2 separate regions of the Homo sapiens genome follow, and region 1 is linked to region 2. A link means that fine-mapping ties the variant in region 2 to the expression of a gene that starts in the linked region. Tissue or cell type: whole blood. Region 2 holds a variant in brackets; the other region holds the start of a gene. All regions are shown on one strand. Distances are from middle to middle. Region 1 holds the start of MICAL1 (microtubule associated monooxygenase, calponin and LIM domain containing 1). Region 2 overlaps AK9 (adenylate kinase 9).

Region 1 (5,000 bases), 160 kb before region 2:
CTCTAGGCCCAAGCTCACCCGCCCCTCCAGGCCACCACGTGGTGCTCACTGATGTGGTCCAGGGTGCCGGTGCAGAAGCGCCCGTAGAACTTCTTAGCACCGAGTGCCCGCAGGTCGTGGATGGTGAAGGGCCAGAGGTGGAGCACGTTGTGGCGAGAGAACTTGGTGCGCTTTTCCACCAGCACCACTCGGGCCCCCAGCAGCGCCAGCTCCACAGCGACCCGCAGCCCGCAAGGTCCAGCACCCACCACCAGGCACTGTGAACACACAGGGCAGTGAGGGCATGGCATCCTGTCCGTCCTCTGACTCCCCGCATGCTCCACACCCCATCCCAGGCACCGTGTATCCACCTTGGTGCTGGTGCAGGCCCGGCCCTGCTGGTAGACAGGCTGGCCTGCTCGCTTGTCCAGCTTGGTCCACAGTGACTTGGCGCTCCAGTAGTTGAGCTGGTCCTTGATCTTGTGGTACTGGGGCAGCCCCCCACCGGGTTCCAGCCCCAGGGCCCCACACAGCTCCTGGAAGCTGCTCAGCACGTCCTGGCACAGCTGGGCCTGCAGGAAGCTCTCAAAGTGGGCATGCGCTGGGTTGGTGGAGGTAGGTGAAGCCATGGAGGCCTCCTGGGGAGGGCAGCAGCTGGGCAGAGATGAGTGGCTGGAGAGGTGGAAAAAGAAGGGGAAGAGGCTGGAGAACAGAAGAAATAAAAAGGAAGGGGAGGCGAAGAGAGCAGGCTGGTGTCCCCAGGGAGCTCGGGATTCACCAGTGATTGGCTCTGCTCCTCCCAGCCCATTCCCCTGCCAGCATCTGCTCCAGAGACAGCTGCTATCCAGTCCACTCCAAGTGAAATTTGCCAAATTTGGAAGTGAAAAACATTAGTCTTGGGCACAGAGGGCACATGGGACACCAGGGGAGCCTCCAGTTCAGCCTCCCTGTCCAGGGATCTCCAAGCCCTGGGGTAGGAATTCTTAGCCTGCCTTCCTTAGGCCTTGGAATCAGGGTGTGCGGGGATTTCTTAGATGTGGAGAGGACAGAGCTGCCTTTGCATGCAACACAGGGACAGATCTGATACCCACAACCCCAGCTGCTGAGCATACATCCTGCCCCATCTCCCTCCAAGCGTCCCTGTGCCGGCGCCCCTTGATGGCCTCAGTGCCACGCTGTGTCTGAGAAGTGTCTCATGGCAAGGGCAAAGTTTTCCTCAGCACTCGTGCTTGCCTCCTGACAGAGAAACAGCCTCTGTCCGCGTAGGTTCCACTTCCCTCCACCAAACTGCCTCAACAAACGGCGGGAGGATGTTGCGACTGACTGGGGAACGGAGGCCTGGGTCTATTTCTGACGCACTGTGGTCAAAACACTTCCTCTGTGAATGTGCCCTACTCCAGGGGGCCGTGGGTAGGGCTGGGGGTCGACCGCAGCCGGGTGCGCCCCTCCCAGGTTCCCCCCTCCCTGATCGACCCCTACCCCGCCCCGCCCCCTGTGCGCCCGGGCGCGCTCTCCCAGGAATCTCCGGAGACAAAGCCTCGCTTTGTCGCCCCCTCCCACGCCACCTGAAGGGTGCCCGAGGGGGTTTCTCACGCGGGGCCCAGAAGGTATCAGAGGGTATGGAGGAGGCGGGTGTCCACGGCAGCGTTAGGGAGGGTGAATGGCAGCAGTGGGGGCAGGTCCCTGAGGCTCAGGCCCCTCCACCATCCAGCTGCCCCTCCGTTCCCAGCCCGCCGCGCCGAGACAGGAGATGAAAGCCTCCCGCTGCGGGTGGCCCGGACGAGGGCAGACGGAATCTCATGACGGAAGGGCAAAGATCTTTCTTGGGGGTGGAGGGTGGAAGGAGGAAGACCTCGGCGAAAGGGGAGAAAGGAGCGACCCAGCCTGGAAACGCCAGGACAAAGGCTGTGAGAGGGGTGGAGCGGTCTGAAAGGATGGAGAGGGAGCTGGACCGCGGGCGGCAGCGGTGGGGGTCCCCGACACTGGACGGCAAAGTCCGGACGCGGCGTGAGCAGGGCTGGGCTGAGGGAAGACCTGCCTGACCTGCCAGGCGTGGTTCCCGAGCGACCGCAGCTGCGTTTCCCCGGAAGCGCACCCCACCTCACCCCACCCGGCCGCGGGGCTCGCAGCCGGCTCCGCTGGACGACTTACCGGCGGCTCCGAAGCCGGGAGGGGCCGCTTCCTGTTGGGCTGGCAACCAGGTCTGAGCGGGTGGGAGGGCGGGGGCGGGGGCGGGGGCGGAAACGCCGAGATCGGGCGGGGATGCTGGGATGCGGGGCGGCCCGGGGCGTGCGCCTGGAGTCGCGCGGAGTGTGGGCTTCCGCGAGGGGCGCGGGGCGCCGCCCGGGCTTTATTCGCGACTCATTAGCATCTCATTACTTCTGGATCCCTCTACCGCCTCCAGCGGGGACAGTCTTGGGCCCGCCCATGCCTGCAGGGTGGCGCCCGAGGGCGTGGCGCTGCGGACACCCCGTTCCGCTCTGGGGCCTCTGGGTGGGTCTGGCCTGTTGGGGGCTGAGGAGCTCGAGGGTCAGGGCGCCCAGTGCTGGACCGCGCACCCTCGGCCTGGGCTCCTTGCCGGTGCTTGCGCGTGCAAGGCTAGCTCTTTCCCCGCCGCAAGGCGAGGACCACCCGCCCCCGCCGCGGTCCCAGGTCCGCTGGCAGCCTCCCAGCGCCGGGCCGAGAGGGCGCTCAGGCTCCTCAAGAGGTTTGGAAAAGCCGGCGGGTCCGAGGGTGGCGCCGGAACGTCTGCGCTCTCCTCCGGTCTCCCACCTGGAGATCCACGGCCCGGGCGCCCCAGGATGGATCCAAGCGCAGAGTGCGCCTCCTGTGACAGAGGTCGACCCCTAAGCCCGGGCCGAGGGCAAAGGGCGCGGATTAAAGTCCTGGAAACTCAGCAATCTGCAGCTTCCAAATGGATATGAGAAGTGAGAGGGAAGGGGATGGCGGGGCGGGTTAGACCACCACTAAGAGATGGGGAATGGGAGGGGTGTGTGGAAGAGAGACCAAGTCTTCAAAGAATGCCTTAGAGTGAGGACCCACGGGACTGTCTGCTGAAAAGGGCTGGAGAGGCCTTTGGGATCAGCTTCGTCGTATTCCCGATAAGGAACAGCGCCTAAAGTGAAGGGACGCGTCCAGTCTTTTAGCTAGTTAATATTAAAAAACATCGTCTCATTTATTGACCGTCATCCTATGAGTATTACCTCAACATCAGTGCTTGCAACAGTCCCATTTTACCAAAAAGGAAACTGAGTCACAGATGTTCTGTGATCTGCACACAGCAAGTGGCAGAGCTGTTTGGGGGCCCAGGTCTGTCGGCTCCACCACCCCAGGGTTGACCCAAAATGACGCATGAAAGGCTGGCATTATAAGATGCTGTTTCTTGTTTAGACGAAGTGATACTGTTACACTGGAAGCACTAATAAAACCCAGGTATAAATAAGAGGGTTGCTGTCCTTGAGATCCAGAGACCATAAAGAGCTGGGAGGGAATAGGGCCTCTCCCTTTATTCTCATTTTGCATTTCATCTGGAAAATATCTGAGACCCAGTAAGACCTGAACACTCACTGTTCCCAGCTCGAGCTGAGAAGCAGGCAGTGGGACGAAAGCAAGGGGAAATGCCTGTTCTCTGCCAGGAGAGGCGAGGGAATTCAGCCAGGTCACGCTCAGAAAACTAGGGCAGCCTCTCAGTTGGGCCCATCCTAGCTTTTGAGTGTGACACGTCATTTGGCTTGAAATGAATTTGCCGAATATCAGACACACCCATATTTAAATACATGGTGTAAAAACGTTCTAAAGTCCACTACAGCTGGGTTACCCTGGGCTCCACCACCCCAGGGTTGATTCAAAATGATGCGTGAAAGGCTGGCATTATACGAAGCTATGTCTTGTTTAGAGGAAGTGAACTGTCACGCTGGAAACACTAATAAAACCGAGGAATAAAGAGGAGGGTTGCTGTCCTTGAGATCCAGAGACCATAAGAGATCCAGAGACCATAAGAGATCCCGAGACAGTCCCTGGCTTCTAGAATAATCTCATTTCCCTTTCACTAGCAGATGGTACACAACTAGCCGCTCCACTTACTACAACTACAGCGGCTACAACTAGCCGCTCCACTTTGCAAAGGCTTAGTGGGGTCTGGCTTGACTCAATGCCTTTTGCCAAGCAGGGTCATGTGGCTCTATGAATGACACATCATAAAATTTGTCTTTAAAGAAGATCAGAGAACAATAATGAGTTCATCAGTGCTAAAAACTGCTGACTTGAAGTTTCAACTTATGCTAATTAAATACTTAACATGGGGGCATAAAGCAGCAGGGAATACATTGTTCTGGAATCCAGAAGGTCTGGTTGGATTCCAGCTTTGCTTCACGCTAGCCTAGTGTGACCTTGGATGTCACCAACCACACTTCGTCTGCCCATCTCTAAATGGAGGCAGTTTAATTACTCAGCCTTCTCAGCCCATTTCTACTCCAAAATCCTATCATTCAATGCTGTCCTAAGAAATGAACAGACTAGAAGACCCAAACCAAGTTCTACTTAGAATTTCTTCCAAGAAAAAAAAAAAAAACTCTATTAAAGCTATTTATTAACCACAAGAATTTCTCTCCTTAATTAGAATCTTGAGTCATGATTCAAATTATGTGTATGTAGAACTAAAAATACTGGCACAATCACATTGGCCAATTCATATTGGATCAAATAAGTGGGTGACACATGAAGTCAGTTTAAAGAGTCCCATTCTAAGGCTGGGCACAGTGGCTCATGCCTGTAATCCCAGCACTTTGGGAGGCTGAGGCGGGCAGATCACCTGAGGTCGGGAGTTCGAGACCAGCCTGAGCAACATGGAGAAACCCCAACTCTATGAAAAATACAAAATTAGCCAGGCATGGTGGCACATGCCTGTAATCCCAGCTACTCAGGAAGGCTGAGGCAGGAGAATCGCTTGAACTCGGGAGGTGGAGGTTGCGGTAAGCTGAGATCGTTCCATTGCACTCCAGCCTGGGCAACGAGGGTGAAAC
Region 2 (5,527 bases):
TTTATTAATTTAGTAGTTCCTAGAAATCCCCAGGAATTCTAGAGAAATTGTGCAGTAACTTATAATGAGGGTTAAAATATTTCCCAATGAAGTAATATAATTAAATGGTACATTATAAGTAAAAAAATGTAAAAACAGTCTATATTATAGCTATTCTATAATATATTACAGCTATTCTATAATATATTACATATAATTATTATATAATGTAATGCTATATGCTCTTATGTTCAAATATGAATAGAAAAATTTTATAAGGATAAATAGCACAATGGGTAAATGATAAAATTTCACAGCTAAAATTGTGGCCTTAAGATGCTCTGATTCCAATACGTTAAAGTAGAGAGCTTTTAAAAAGAATTTATGATATGATAATGATTTTATAACATTGGAAACATTCAAACATTTTTCTTTGGGCTCTAATTGTATCTGACTCCCCATTTATATGTTTTCTTCTTTATTCTAATAAATTGACTTCTGTTCTACAGTTGTTCAGGTTAAATCCATAAGGAAATATTTAGCTTTTTTCCTCCTGAAGTTTCCAATTTTGGGGGTAATTTTAAGCATAAATATAAACATAATCAAATATGAAATAAATGAAAATGAGATCCACAAACGTGGGATTAGCAGTTCACTTTGTTACCATCTTTATCAACTTTAGCAGCTTGATCATGGAGGACATTTTCTGACTTTGTTTTGGCTTCTTCGGTGTCCACTAAAGAGCTGCCTCTGTCCCTTTGGGAGCCTTGAATGTACCCTGCAATGAAAGAATAATATACTTTATCAGCTAATCTATTTATATTAGGGATGATTTGGTCAATAACATCAGCAATATATTTCTTTACCTTCTTCATCAATTGATGAGTGTGTTGCCTCCATTGGGAATACTCCAAACTCCATTTTTTCATATTGCCTTTGAAATTCTCTTAAAGCTGTTTCAGCTGAAATATAACAATGGGTGGTGTTAGCAAAACGTAGTTGGGGATAGAAAAACAGGTAGAGTGACCAAAAGCCCCTGCTTCAAAGTTAGACACAGTTGAGTTTCAGTTCTGACTTATAAGCTGTAAGGGCTGTGTGACTTTGGTAAATCACTTGATCTTTTTGTCTCAATTTCTAGGCAAAATGAGGATCTTTAAACTGAAAGCACTGCTGTGAGGATTAAATGAGGTAATGAATATAAATACTTAACTTGGAAAATGCTGGCACACAGGAAGGCTGTTCCATGTTAGCTGCCATCCTCTGTATAATCATGTAATTTTTATGTTAAAAAAACCTCAATATTCTCCACTGACAAATTTTTCTTAAAAATATATTGAGGCAAACTTCAACAGCAAAAAATTCCAATTTAAAATTTTAAGTAGAGTTACTCCTATTGTCAGATTTAGAATAATTAGTGAATTTGGAAAAGAAAATAAAAAGGCTTTTAAGTTTGCAGCATATGAGAGATAGCATCTATTGCTATATTCCAGTGGGAGAAGGCAATTTGTGGAAAGCTGTAAAATCTATGATTTAATGTTATAATTTAATGTGAAAGAAACATTACAGATCACTGTTCTTCCTCCAGGAGCCCGGCTAACTTCCTGCCTTGGTCCAGGTCTCAGTCAAACGTCCCCTCTTTGGAGAGGTCTTCCCTGGGCATCCCAACACTTCAGTATCCCTACTCCAATCACTGTCTGCCCCATTACCATGTTGTATTTTTTTTCCATCTGTTCCCTTGGCTTTTTTTTTTTTTTGCCTTCTGCCTTCTATTAAAATGTGAGCACCACAAGGATAGGGACTTCATGTGTCTTGTTCTCATCTGTATTGCTGGTGCCTAGAATAAAGTCTAATACAAAGTAGGTATTCAAGTATTTGTTGAATGAATTAATAAATTCATTTTGTCCAGCCTTAAATAGGTTGAATAACAAGCCACTTTAGTAGACTGAGCCAATATTTCTCCAGCTTCAGTTTGTAAGTTGACTGAGATATTTTAAAATTTTAATTTTAATTTTGAAGGTATTATACTAAAAATATAACTTCACTCTAGATTGTCTGGATAACCATTTGGATGGCATGCAATTTCAGTGCTGGTCTTTTTGTTGTTTTTTGTAATCTCTTGGGCACCATGTTGAATTATTTTATTTGTTTATAGGCTGAGAAAGAAGAGAGGCAGATTTATTAGGTAAATACTGTGTTCTCATCTAGCAAAAACTCAACACAGAGAAGTAATTTCCTTGCTATTTAAATAGTTTCAAGCATGCAAAATGTTGAGAAGCTTCCCAATTTATGTAAAAAGTTAAAAAAGAAACGATAGCAAACTCTGACAAATAGAGAACATCTCCCCCGCTCAACTATAAACCAGTCACACCTAAGAATGTAGGGGAAAAGTCCTAAATAAACAAACAAAAGTAAAAAAAATGTTATAAGAATAATGAAACTAGGCACAGCGGCTCATGCCTGTAATCGCAGCACTTTGGGAGGCCAAGGCCGGAGGATCACTTGAGGCCAGGAGTTAGAGACCAGCCTGGACATCATACTGAGACCCCTGTCTCTGCCAGAAAAAAAAAAATCACAACCACTATTTGACATTAATTGCTTACCTACATAATTAGTCAAGAAAGGAAATAAATATAAGTATTGGAAAAAGAGGGGTTTAAACTATACTTCTTTTCAAATTATGTGATTAGCTCTCTGGAAAACCCAAGAGAATCAACTGAAAGTCCAACTGAAACGAAGTAAGGTTTATTTCAGAAATACAAGAATTGTTTAATGTTGGAAAATACATTAGTATAACTGATCAAATCAATAGGTCAAAGGATTAAAAACTTAATGATTTTCTTGAAAGATGCTGGCAATACATTTGATAATTTTC[AT/A]TTTTTTTTCTTTCTTTTTTTTTTGACACAGGTTGGAGTGTGGTGATGTGATCATAGCTTACTGCAGCCTCAACCTCCTGGGCTCAAGTGATCCTCCCATCTCAGCCTCCTGAGTAGCTGAGTCTACAGGTGTGGACCCCCACACCCAACTAATTTTTTTTTTTTGGTAGAAATAATGTCTCCCTTTGTTGCCCAGGCTGATCTTGAACTCTTAGCCTCAAGAGATCGTCCCACTTTGGCTTCGCAGAGCATTGGGATTACAGGTATGAGCCACTGACCTTGACTGCTTTTGGCAATTTTCAATATCTATTCCAGATAAAAATACTTAATAACCTGATGGAGAAATATTGACCAGAACCCCTTTAAAGATGGTCAGTATCACAACCACTATTTGACATTCTAGAATTGCTCACCTACCTAATTAGTCAAGAAAGGAAATAAATATAAGTATTGGAAAAAGAGGGGTTTAAACTATACTTCTTTTCAAATTATATGATTAGCTCTCTGGAAAACCCAAGAGAATCAACTGAAAGTCCATCAGAACTAGAAAGTAAGTTTAATAAACTAGATAGTTATAAATAAATATATGAAAATCAAATAGCTTTCCAACATACTGTTAATAACTACTTAGAAAATATTATAAAAAGATCCCATTCACTAGTAATAAAATGACAAAATATCTGGAAATAAGCTTATTAAGAAAACTGTAGACAACACATGAAGAAAGCTACCAAATATTATGGAAAGACAAAACTAGACTAAAAAATGGAGATTTCATGTCTGCATGAGAAGATCTAATAGTAAATATGAGAACTCTTACCAAATTATTATATAATATTAATACAATCCTCCCATTTGGATTTGTTGTAGAACTTGAGAAAAATTCTACAAGCATCCTAACATCTAGTACAGTTTCTGGCAAACAATAAGCACCCATTTCATGGAACAAATGAAGAAATAATCAGGAAACAACTTAAAACAAAATGTTTTGAGGGAGGATTTATATTATCACAAGAGTAAAAATGTATCATAAAGCTTTGATAATTACATTATGTATTAAAAGTTTACTATAAATATCAATAGAATAGAAATTCCAGAAGTTTATACATACACACACAAACTTAATATTAGGATAAAGTTGGCATTTCAAACCTCCAGTAAAATTATGGATAATTTAGTAATTGTTATTTGTAACATTGGCTCAGCATTTGGGAAAAATAATGAATTTAGAGATATATCTAATACAAAATGTATTATAATAATTACATCTTAATTAGAAAGAAGTATTATTTTAAAATCAGTGAATGTAATTTTGCGTATACCATAGGATCACAATTAACCATTACAAACATGAATAGAAAAAAAGAGAGCAGCAAAGAATAAGAATGGTTCTCGTTCTAAGTATGAGTGAGTTTTCCTTCTATCTGCTTTTTCTGGTTTTCTGTGCTCACTTGAGAGACACAGTAAAGAAGAGCACATTTATTTGAATCCCAATCACTTGCTGGCTGTTGACTCTTAAATAATCCCTCTGAGTTTCTTCAACCACTAGAATTGGCCATAAGAACATCTACCGTGCAAACTTGTCATGAGGATTAAATAGGATAATACATGCAATGCAGTTAGCATAGCTCCAGCCTGTAGTAAATGCATCACGAATGGCTATTATTACTTTTGTCATCAGAAAAACATAATTAGGAAAAGGATATTTGGAATGGATGCACTGATGGCCACAGAGTGCACTGCCATAGCTTCTGGGACTCTGAACAGTGGTGACTGAATCTAGCTAAAATTGCTGAAGCTAATCCCAGATTTTGGATTTAGATTTTTGAAAGTGAGGAAGATCCCATGTTGTACATAGGAAATGTTGCATTAAGGACATTCCATTAAGAGGAAAGGTTTAGATTAAGCTACTTTCATGTGTTCTAATATGATTAGTTACAAGACTACCAACTAGAGATAGAAAGTCTGCAAAAACCAATCAATGAACATCAAAAGTAGTCATGAAATGAGAACTCTCATTTTTCCTGGAGAAAAACAGAAAAAAAAAAACAAAACGCTTTTTGTCTATTCTGCAATGTGATCAACAGTCAGTGAGACACAGGAAGAGGCAGAATGGTCAGGAGAAAGACCACCAGGACTTTGGAAATGAGGGATCAAGTCTCAGCTATGCTACCCGCTGGGTGATTTCCAGGGAGCCATTCAACCTCCATGAACCTCAGTTCTCTCAACTATAAAATTAGAGAAGGGTGTTAAGTGATCACAAAGGCTTCTTCTAGTTTCATCGCATTAAATTAATCTTTCCCAAATAGAAAGATTTAGTCACAATCAGGACTGCCATATAAGTCTAAAACAACAAACTCCACAAGAGTCAGGTGGATTCTTCCTGTTGTTTTAATGACTGGTGTAGATAAAGGTGTAAATCCTGATCAAACAGTCTGCCCAGTAAGGTAGACCCATTGGAGAAAGAAATCCAAATTTAGAGGCTCATTCTGATTCATTCCTTAGAGGTCTAGAATTGAAAGTTTTTTTCTCTGCTTTTGAATTGGTTTATGTACATCCATTCTTCAACCATTTGTTAAGAGTCTATAATGTGTAAAGTGCCAAGAATGCCAAGATGAGCTAAACAAAGTCCTTGCTTTCAAGTAGCCCGGCTTAATTTTTACCTAAACTTAAAA

The links.
Region 1: it holds the start of MICAL1, and the variant in region 2 is fine-mapped to the expression of MICAL1 in whole blood (TOPMed, PIP above 0.99).

What each region holds. Positions count from the first base shown.
Region 1 is chr6:109,453,589-109,458,588 of GRCh38, forward strand. MICAL1 (microtubule associated monooxygenase, calponin and LIM domain containing 1) reads right to left here and starts at 2,184. Exons shown (of 25, transcript NM_022765.4): 1 at 2,131-2,184; 2 at 351-651; 3 at 50-257. The coding sequence starts at 608. RefSeq lists enhancers at 776-825, 1,056-1,105, 1,188-1,696 and silencers at 1,256-1,595, 1,956-2,805.
Region 2 is chr6:109,613,540-109,619,066 of GRCh38, forward strand. It overlaps AK9 (adenylate kinase 9), which reads right to left. Exons shown (of 41, transcript NM_001145128.3): 14 at 846-941; 15 at 644-757. Among named protein-coding and RNA genes, the nearest start is that of AK9, 75 kb to the right of the region's middle. The variant AT/A (reference allele first, on the strand shown) is at 2,852.